Regions from separate parts of the Homo sapiens genome. Here all the other regions are reported to be linked to region 1. Evidence: microRNA targets listed by miRTarBase, many of them from high-throughput screens and not tested one by one. Region 1 holds a microRNA gene; each other region holds the end of a gene's coding sequence.
What was found. Region 1 holds the annotated microRNA hsa-miR-3194-5p (GGCCAGCCACCAGGAGGGCUG, at 941-961, opposite strand). A microRNA usually pairs through its seed, bases 2 to 8, with sites in the 3' UTR of a target mRNA and lowers its output. Matches are read on the target gene's strand: a 7mer-m8 pairs with bases 2 to 8, a 7mer-A1 pairs with bases 2 to 7 and ends in A, and an 8mer does both.

Region 2: the mRNA of KBTBD11 is a reported target of hsa-miR-3194-5p. The part of its 3' UTR that is shown has no 7-base or 8-base seed match.
Region 3: miRTarBase lists NUDT18 as a target of hsa-miR-3194-5p. Seed matches in the 3' UTR shown: 7mer-m8 at 2,588-2,594.

The regions. Positions count from the first base shown.
Region 1 is chr20:51,452,008-51,455,007 of GRCh38, forward strand. It overlaps MIR3194 (microRNA 3194), which reads right to left and starts at 970; the gene lies at 898-970. NFATC2 (nuclear factor of activated T cells 2) reads right to left here. Exons shown (of 11, transcript NM_012340.5): 6 at 2,541-2,681.
Region 2 is chr8:2,002,518-2,005,867 of GRCh38, forward strand. KBTBD11 (kelch repeat and BTB domain containing 11) reads left to right here. Exons shown (of 2, transcript NM_014867.3): 2 at 1-3,350. The coding sequence ends at 547. Among named protein-coding and RNA genes, the nearest start is that of KBTBD11, 31 kb to the left of the region's middle.
Region 3 is chr8:22,104,627-22,107,976 of GRCh38, forward strand. NUDT18 (nudix hydrolase 18) reads right to left here. Exons shown (of 3, transcript NM_024815.4): 3 at 2,252-3,269. The coding sequence ends at 2,674. FHIP2B (FHF complex subunit HOOK interacting protein 2B) reads left to right here. Exons shown (of 17, transcript NM_022749.7): 17 at 1-285. Among named protein-coding and RNA genes, the nearest start is that of NUDT18, 3.1 kb to the right of the region's middle. RefSeq lists enhancers at 2,593-2,737, 3,134-3,350 and a cis regulatory region at 2,665.

The sequences.
Region 1 (3,000 bases):
CAACCCTTGAAAAGAACTGTCTTCCATGCAACTGGTCCCTGGTGCCAAAAAGGTTGGGGACTGCTGGTGCAGAGTCTTCTTGCCTAGAGCAGACTTTACCTTCATCATCTCTGATCCCTCAAGCAACGCTACTCCTCAGCTCACTCCTCAACTCACTGCCACCTGGGTACGTGTGATTCAAATCACCAGAGGCCCCCCAATCACTGGACTCTCAGGCTGACCTCGGGCTCTGTGACCTTCATAGCACTGCCTCTGCTGACCCTTCCCAAGTCTCCTTCCCCTGGTCTCCAGGGCACCAGACTCCCCTGGTTCTCCTCCTCCTGCTGTGACAGCTCCTCCTCTGCCACCTTTAAGGGATGTGGCTCTCAGTTCTCTAAGCCTCCCCTTCTCCCACTGGAGGCCATCCTGGGAGGTCGGAGCCAATTCCCAGGACTTCACCTCAGATCTCATTGCTGACAGCTCCCATGACAACATCTGCAGCCAGGATCTGGTTTCTTAGTCTAGACCACGTGGCCACATACCCACCAATCTCTTGCCTTTCCACAGAGGTGAGATCATGGTTCATCCAAGAAGGCCCATGGGTACATGAGACTCAACGCTTCCACTTCCAAAATGAAACCCGTCCTCCCTGCCCAACCTCATCCCCACACAGACCTCCTCTCCTGTGTGCTAAATCTCAGCTGGCCAAGTGCACCACGTGAACAAAACAATCTCGACACTCAACCTCTTCCCCTTCCCCATCCACAGCAGCTCCAGAAAAACAGCAGCAGCCCCTGCCCCTTACCGAGCACTTCCGGTGCTAAGCCCACTTGCTCTAATTCATTCAGACCTTACCTTTGTGGGTAGGCACTGTCACTGTCCCTGCTTTTCAGGGGATAGATGATGGAGAGTTTCCGCAGGTGACACTGCCAGTGAGCAGCAGAGCTGCCCGGGTGGCACGCAGCCCTCCTGGTGGCTGGCCCTGCCACCTGCGTTCTTAATGCCTCTCTACACCACTACGTCCCATCAAACCTCAGTGACATCTGCCTTCTAAACCACTCCCGACCCATCCCTGCATCTCCCTTCCCCACTGCCACAGCCTTACTTAATACCTTTTTTGTTATTTTTCGCAAAGGCGTCATCAAACCCTTTTAAAATAAATTCTGCCTCTTGTTATGCTTCCAACTGTGAGAATGCAGTTGTCACACCCCGGTCACATGTCCAGCCCATCCCAGAAGGATGATTTGTGCGAGACTGGAAGAAGCACTCTTTGCCTAAGACAGTCTGCTTCCCCCTGCCAGAAGTTGTCTTACTAACGTGTAAACTGGTGATGTATCCAATTTGAATGGCAGCCCTCAGAGGAGGTGCCCTTGTACAGTGCACAATCCCTCCAACTGGACAACTCACCTGTTATATTCTCGGATTGTTCTAAGGACAATAAACAAATAGACAAACATCAACACCCCTTTGAAGTAACCTACTGAAATCATGTCTGTTAAGGAAAAGGAAAATTGGTTCTAGTATCCAAAATAAGTGTCCCAAGTTATTTGAGCTAATTTCCTTCTAACAACACATTTGTTTCATTAATTATTGCTTAATCTGATATTTTCCTACTTCAGATCAGCATCTTTTCTACCACATACCCACTGAAAAAGACACCGATAGTACACCAAAGGAAGAATACACGTGGTGAATAAACAAAACATTATGCGTCTCAGAGCAAGGAAATGCAAAGTAGAAAGAAGTACCAATTCCACAATGATTCCTTTTTAATTTAAAAAAATGGCATTTCTGGGATGGGGGTGAAACTATGACTGACATGATGGCAACTTCAATTTGTAGATTTCTGGAAGGTAATTTAGCAATATGTATTTAAAGTCCTCAGAATGACTATCCAAAATTCCACTGCTGGGAATAAACCCTAAATAAACTAAAAAGATATACATATAGATTCATGTACAAGATTAATTAATCCTAGAAGTATAAGCTGATTCACTGCAGAACTACTTATAATAAAAATACAAGTAGCCAATATTAATTGGCTTATGCTGTACTTGGCACTATTATAATTACGTGACATGTATTAGCTCATTTAACCTCCATGACAACTTTATGGGGTAAGAAATTTTAACGGATAGGTAATATGCCTCGGATCACCAAGCAAGCAGATAACAAACCCAGAATTTGAACCCAAGATATCCAGGGCCAGAGTATGCATGCTTTATCACTGTGCTGTTTGGCCTCCCTTCTTGATAATAGCAAAAAGTTTTAAAAATTTCCTTCCTTATGTAAAAAAGTAATTTTAAAAAAAGGATTGAGGGTGGGAGATAATCTCATTTTCTGTCAAAATGACCTAGAAGAGTTAAAATGTAGAATGGCACATTCATGCAATGGCGAATGGTATGGCCATCACAATCCCTGAAGACACGCTGAGTAAAAAGAGCAGGGTATAAAACTGCACGGTGGGATCTACCCCCCAAAACCAAAGTTGTATATAATAAAGAGATGGTCACTTTTGCATGATTCTGGGGGACAGAGAAAGAGCTCAAAAATCCACTGACCTGTGGTCTTCTCAGTAAACACAACTTTGGACTCGGATGTAAAGTTCTGCCCCGTGAGGATCATTTGCTGGCCGCCATAGACCAGGCAGCTGTCTGTGTCTTGTCTTTCAACCATGGGCAGCTCGTGAGCAGATCGCTGGGCTGCAGGCAAAAGAGAGAGAAGTCACTGTGATAAGGGGAGATGTCTGTTCAAAAGAGGAGGTCTGATTTCATGGTACTGAGATATGACATGCTCTGCCCACCTGTGTCACCTGTTGTTATCTAAAATGTGGAACCATCACCCCTGACAATCAATGACGTACAAATGTTATGCCTTGTGAAAGTGCTCTAAGTCATTTGAGCTAATTTCCCTCTAACAACACATTTCGTTTTCATGAATCAAGGGACAGAGGCCTGTTCTCCTTACAGGAAGCCAGAGGCTGCCTGTTGTCCTTATAAGGAGAACAGGTACATGAGAATT
Region 2 (3,350 bases), not on the chromosome of region 1:
CCGGGGCGCCTTCGCCGTGGCGCATGAGGCCACCACCTGCCACGGCGAGATCTACGTGTCCGGGGGCTCCCTCTTCTATCGCCTGCTCAAGTATGACCCGCGGCGCGACGAGTGGCAGGAGTGCCCGTGCAGCAGCAGCCGCGAGCGCTCGGCCGACATGGTGGCTCTCGACGGCTTCATCTACCGCTTCGATCTGAGCGGCAGCCGCGGCGAGGCGCAGGCGGCGGGGCCGAGCGGGGTCAGCGTGTCCCGATACCACTGCCTGGCCAAGCAGTGGAGCCCGTGCGTCGCGCCCCTGCGCCTCCCCGGCGGCCCCACGGGCCTGCAGCCCTTCCGCTGCGCCGCCCTGGACGGCGCCATCTACTGCGTGAGCCGCGCGGGCACCTGGCGCTTCCAGCCTGCCCGGGAAGGCGAGGCCGGCGGCGACGCAGGCCAGGGCGGCGGCTTCGAGGCGCTGGGCGCCCCCTTGGACGTCCGGGGTGTGCTCATCCCGTTCGCTCTCAGCCTGCCTGAGAAGCCGCCCCGAGGGGAGCAGGGCGCCCCGTAGGCCGGCGGGGTCGGCGGGCGTCTCCCTCGGCAGGGGTTTGCGGGGCCCAGGTCCCTTTGGGCCCGCGGAGGAGGACGTGGTGGGGAGTCGGGGCCGCTGGCCACGCTGGTGGTTTGGACACTTCGAAGGAGCCCCGAGGACGCTCTCAGGGCCGCTTTCGCTTTGCTTTCCTTTTGCTTGTCTTTGCTTCTGGGGGTGGATGCCTTGAGACCCAGGAGGTGTGCGGATGGGTCCCTTGACAGACAGGACACAGAGAAGGCTGTGGGATCCAAAGGGTCAGCCTCAGGGTACAGTGGGGGTTCCTGAGGCAGCCTGCAGCCGGCCCCGGGGTGTCCCGAACCCCGCAGAGCACCGAGGCTGTGCGCAGGAGCCTGGGACCCTCAAGTAGGTCGCCGCGAACTATCGGGGGAAGCACGCAGAGAGGGTCACGCCTTTTATTTTTGGCTTGAGATTTAAAATTATAACTGATAAGTAAAGCTCTTTCTGATTTAGTTGAAAATTTCGTACCATGTGCTCGCTTTGGTTGGCTCAACTCCAAAAAGAGTAATTTAATAAGCATTAAAGGTAAAATCTTTGATTACCAGTAAGGTTTCTTGTTCAATATGCATTGGAAGTATTTCCTTCCCCACACCATTGCTACTCAAACTCACATGCCTAGAGCAGCTCCGTCTCACTGTTGGACCGAGGGGGCTTTCATATTTTCAGTTGAAAGGATGTTAACTGATGTAGCGATGATTTACCATTATTTAAATTTTAAGTCTTCAGTGGCTAAATGTGACCAAACAGCACATCATAAGTAGGAAAAACTTACCAGGGTGCTTGTCTATCTAAAAAGCAATCTTTGATAGTCCACTCTGTATGCCCAGCCGCTTTCATAATCTGGAACGAGATAAAATATTCCTAAAAAGCGGGGAAAATCATTTTGCTTTGACAGTTCTATAAAAAAAAGTGTAGGCACATTTTAAACCCACTGTATATGATGTTTTCAATGTGGATCGTGTAGTTCTGATGAGGGAGATTAATTTTTACAATCAGTATTCTAAGTGTGGCCGAGTGACAGTGGGCATAGATTTATAACAAGGAAGTGACGTGCTTATCACCATAGATTTGCAAGTAAACTGCATGTATTTAATTGTATTGAATTGAGTTCCAAAATACCCTAATAGAATTAACACGAGGCTCACTGCATTGACAGGGTATGAGGATTAAAAACAAATCAGTTGGGTCGTTTCTCATTTAACATTTTACTTTTCAAGTGTGTATACAGAGGACTTACTATTATGACTTTGAGGATGAGATCCATGCTCACAAATAGAGGCGAACATTTGAACTCCGAATCCAACCCATTTTCTTACTGTAAGAGGAAAAGTTACTGGAACGTAACTAGTTGAAATCCTGCCTACTTTAATATTATTTGTTTGTTAATCCAGTAATGGGAACTGCCATCTCTGTAGAAATCAGTGGGTAATTGAAAAATAGGTTATGCTTTTTAAAGAGTCTGTGGTTATGAGAGGTCTCAGTTAAGTGTGTTTAGAAGTGATCAGCTTGAACCTTATGCATGACTCGGGGGCTGGAATTTATGATCTGGGTTACGGTATGTTCTGGGGACGTGTCTGCTTGCCCATGGTTACTCATGAACTGAGGGGATAGCTTGGCAACTTGGTTAATCATCTTGGGAAAGAAAAACAGACTTCATATCGCCTGACTTGATTGGCCTTTTATAGGAGTATACTGGAGAAATGGTTGTAGAAACAGTATTTACAGCAAAAGGAAACAAATAATGTTCATTTTAAGCAATGTACCATTCACACTGTCCTGCCTTTTCCTCTAGAATTTTATTAATGGTAGAAATTTTTATATGAAATGGGACCAGGACCAGGCTAATATTTTCAGTCCTTAAATATCAAACTCATATGCTGTTATCACTGTGATTTTACTTGTGAAATCATTCCTGTAATGTTTATTGTTTGAAAATGAAATATTGAAATTAGGCTTCCAGAGTAACACTGTCCCCGGAAAAGGATATGAGAAGTGGTGGATGTTGGATGGGGGTGGTTGCACAGTCCTGTGCGGTTCCCATGGCTTTCCAGCGTTTCATTTAGTGAAGGAATGCTCACACTAGATGTAGCACAGCTTCCTGTGGGGCCCGGCAGCAAAGCCCCAGGTGCTCCCTGTCACCTCACAACAAAATGCACTAAGAAACGTAAAGAATAAGAGGAATTAATACCCACCATTAAAGGATGTCCGGCCAACCTATTGTGGAAATTTATAGAATAGTATACACCACAGTTCTGAATAGTGATATCACATAAAAATACATACTAGAGGACCTGCCACGCCATGAGCAGTGTTTTTGCTTTTTGGGGGCCAGTCCCTGGGGTGTGGAGCCGCTAGGGTTTGCACCCATGAAACAGAGAAAAGCCACACCCTCCAAGGTGTGGCTTTCATTTTGGGACTGCTGCAGGGAGGGCAGAGGCATTGCTGAGACTGCCTGGCAACGGCTGATGCCCCAGGTAGGACCTTTTCCAATTCAAAGTGGTGTTCTAAGTCTGCGTCCAACACTGTGTAGGAAAAAGGTTGGTGCAAAAATATTCCTGGTCATCCACCCATTAAAATAGTTAGATGAGGCTATTGCCTTGATGACAGCTGTCCACACTCCTCATGAAATTAACCCGTATGCCGGGGCATTTCCAAATGTCTGACTCGTGAAATTAACCCATACGCAGGGGCCTTTCCAAATGTCTGAAAAGGCAGTGGTGTCTTTTGGGGAAAATGTTATGCATGGAAGCCTGACCTTTTGCTT
Region 3 (3,350 bases), not on the chromosome of region 1:
CCACCCCGGAGACACCATGAGGGAATGGACCACGTGGGAGCATCTGTGTGCAAGTCTCATTTGGGTGTGTTTATGCTGCGTGTTGTATGCCTGTTTTAGTCATAAAGTAGGCCTGATATTTAAAACCTTGTCTTTAAGTTCAAGGCTGCAGTGAGCCGATTGCACCACTGCACTCCAGCCTGGGCAATAGAGTAAGACCCTGTCTAAAAAAAAAAAAAAAAAATTTCACAGGTGTGTTCTCAGGGAAAAAGAAAAGTTAACACATAAATAAACCCTTTGTCCTCAGATGTGTGTGGAGGGGTGGGGGATCCTCTGAGGGGGGTCCCCAAGAGACTGCGGGAGGGCAGGCTGAGAACGTGGAGGAAAAGGAGCCAGATGTTGGCTCTCAACTCGTGTTGATCACTGGGTGGCTTTTTAAAATCCCAATGCCCAGTGCCCCATCACCAGTTAAATTATTGTTGCTGGGGGTACACCCAGAGTTCAAGCTCTCCAGGTGGTTGTGCATGGTGGCTCACGCCTATAATCCTAGTACCTTGGGAGGCTGAGGCGGGAGGATCACTTGAGGACAGAAGTTCAAGACCAGCCTTGGCAACATAGTGAGAACCCCATCTCTACTAAAAGCTTAAAAATGCGCCTGTGGTTCCAGCTACTTGGGAGGCTGAGGCAGGAGAATCACTTGTCACTTGAGCCTGGGAGGTCAAGGCTGCAGTGAGCCAGGATCACACCACTCCACTCCAGCCTGGGTGACAGAGCAAGACCCTGTTTGAGGGAAAAAAAAAAAAACCCAGGTGACCCTAACGTGTGCCCAGGGTTGGAAACTACTAGGCTAAATAATGGGGGCAAATAGCCAAATGTCATTGCCCGGCTGACTGGATATGGGCCAGTGGGTCCCTTAGACACTGAGAGAAGTGAACTGAAACAAAGGGGTTTGGTTCCATCATTTGTGAGGTATTTGTCCTCAGAGGGTACAAGGATTCCTACCACCCTCCAGGGCCCAGAAAGGAGGGCAGCCAAGAGAGGCAGGGAGGGGGCTGGGAAAGGGGCCTTGGAGGTCATCTTGGCCCTCAGAAGGGGAGCCTGTGCTAGTGTTTCCTTGCTCAGAATCAGAAATCTCTACCGTAGAACACTTGATATATTTTATTTGTTCATTTCCTTTGATTTTGCTTAAATTTCAGTAAAGTTCTTTTTTTCCTCTTTCTTTTCTTTTTTCTTTTGAGAGAGGGTCTTGCTGTCTCACCCAGACTGGAGTGCAGTGGCCTGAGCATGGCTCACTGCAGCCTCAACCTCCCGGGCTCAAGCCATCCTCCTGCCTCAGCCTCCTGAATAGCTGGGATTTACAGGTGTGCACCACCTTGCCTGGCCTTTTTTTTTTCCTGTAGACACAGGGTCTCACTATGTTGCCCAGGCTGGCTTCAAACTCTGGCCTTCAAGCGATCCTCCTGCCTCAGCCTCCCAAAGCACTGGGGTTAAAGGTGTGAGCCACCGTGCCTGGCCAAAGTTCTTTTTTTTTTTTTTTTTTTTTCAGACGAAGTCTATCACCCAGGCTGGAGCTCGGCTCACTGCAACCTTTGCCTCCGGGGTTCAAGCGATTCTCCTGCCTCAGCCTCCTAAGTATCTGAGATTACAGGCATCTGCCAACATGCCCGGCTAGTTTTTTGTATTTTTAGTAGAGATGGGGTTTTGCCATGTTGGCCAGGCTGGTCTCGAACTCCCTGACCTCAAGTGATCCACCTGTGTCAGCCTACCAAAGTGTTGGGATTACAGGTGTGAGCCACTGTGCCCGGCCACTTAGCAAAAAAAAAAAAAAAAAAAAAAAAAAATCCTACCATGATTCAGCGAGGCTGAGGGGAAATGAAGAAAAGGTTTGGTCTGGCATGGGCTGAAGTTGTGAAAAGGCAGAGGCAGGAGAGCCAGGGGGAGTGGTCTGCGCCAGGGAGGCTCAAGGAGAGAGCAGAGGCAGCACCTGCAGCTCCTGTCCCACTTGAAGTTCCTCTGGGGCCGCCCACTGCCCAACCCTTGGAGGGCTCAGAGCTGTGTTTCATTAGGGATGGGTCCCCTCAGAGTCACATCCCGGGCCAGCAGGCCAACTGGAGGGAGCCCCAGGGGCCGTGCTGGACAGCAGACTGGCCCGCACTGTCAGTGCACTGGGAAAGGCATGGGTGCCTGTGGGTAACACGAGGGGAGCAGCAGCTCCTGGACAGTAGTCCCCATCACTTTCTCCCCACAGAGACGTGTAGGCAGGGAGGCAAGGTGAGTAACACCTCTTTACTCAGCAACGTGCTCCTCCCTCGGGGGACCTTCCCCAGTGCCCCTCCATGCTCGAAGGGCCTGGAAGGATCAGAATGCAGGCCTTTCCCAAGGACGGCACAGAACGTGATGAGGAGATGCCACTGGGGGTGCAGAAAGCTCCCCATCCCCCTGGGAAGAGGCGTCAGCGTGCCCTCAGGGTAGTCAGGTCCTGAGCTTTGGACTCCTCGCTTGGTTAAAGGCACTGTCCCTTGTGCAATCTAGAGGAATGCTCCTCAAAGCATCTCTCCTGGGGACCAGGAGAGCCGCCCCTGCTCCCAATGCAACAAGATCCCTGATCGCCAGCCTCTTGCCTCCCTCAGAGGGAGACAAGTCCGCACTGGAGGGAGCACGGCTGCCTAGCTCCCTGTCACCTCCCCCACCTCTCTATCTGTTCACTGGGACAACAGAGGATCCCTGAAGCCGCTGGAGGAGCTGGCTTTGCAGGTCTTCCTCCATCACCTTCCACCAAGAGAAGTTCTCACCCCGAACTTTTGGGGGTTCATCCTGGATCCCTGGGCTCCGAAAAGCCACGGTCACCAGCACATTCAAACAGATGCCATCACTGTGATCTCGGCCCAGGTGCTGCAGTCCAAGCAACCCCTTGATCTCCACCACCAAGTGGTGCAGGGTCAGACACTCCTGCAGCAGCCGCAGGACGGCCATCTTCATGCCACCCCTCTGCTCCATAGGGTCGAGGCCACAGGCAGTGACAGGCAAGTGAGGCATCCCCACTGTGCCCACTAACACCCACACTGTCTGGGCGCTGGTAAAGGTAGCCACGAGCCGCTGGCAGACCAGATCACAGGGTAGCTCTTGGGGCAGAATGAGAGGGTGCCTGGCTTGCTGGCGATACTGGGCGGCTAGTTCAACCAGGTGCAGGATGTCATGGGCTCGCAGCGGAGTGGGCAGGGAGGTCCGTGGGTACCAGGCAGCCTGCAGGGACTCCGCATCGGCCTCCTTGGAAGTCTTGAGAATTCCACCTGGGGGAGATGTGGGGGATGGGGCAGGGAGGGTCTGTGTGGAGAGAAGTGCAGCTCTGGCAGAGTCAACAGACATCCCTG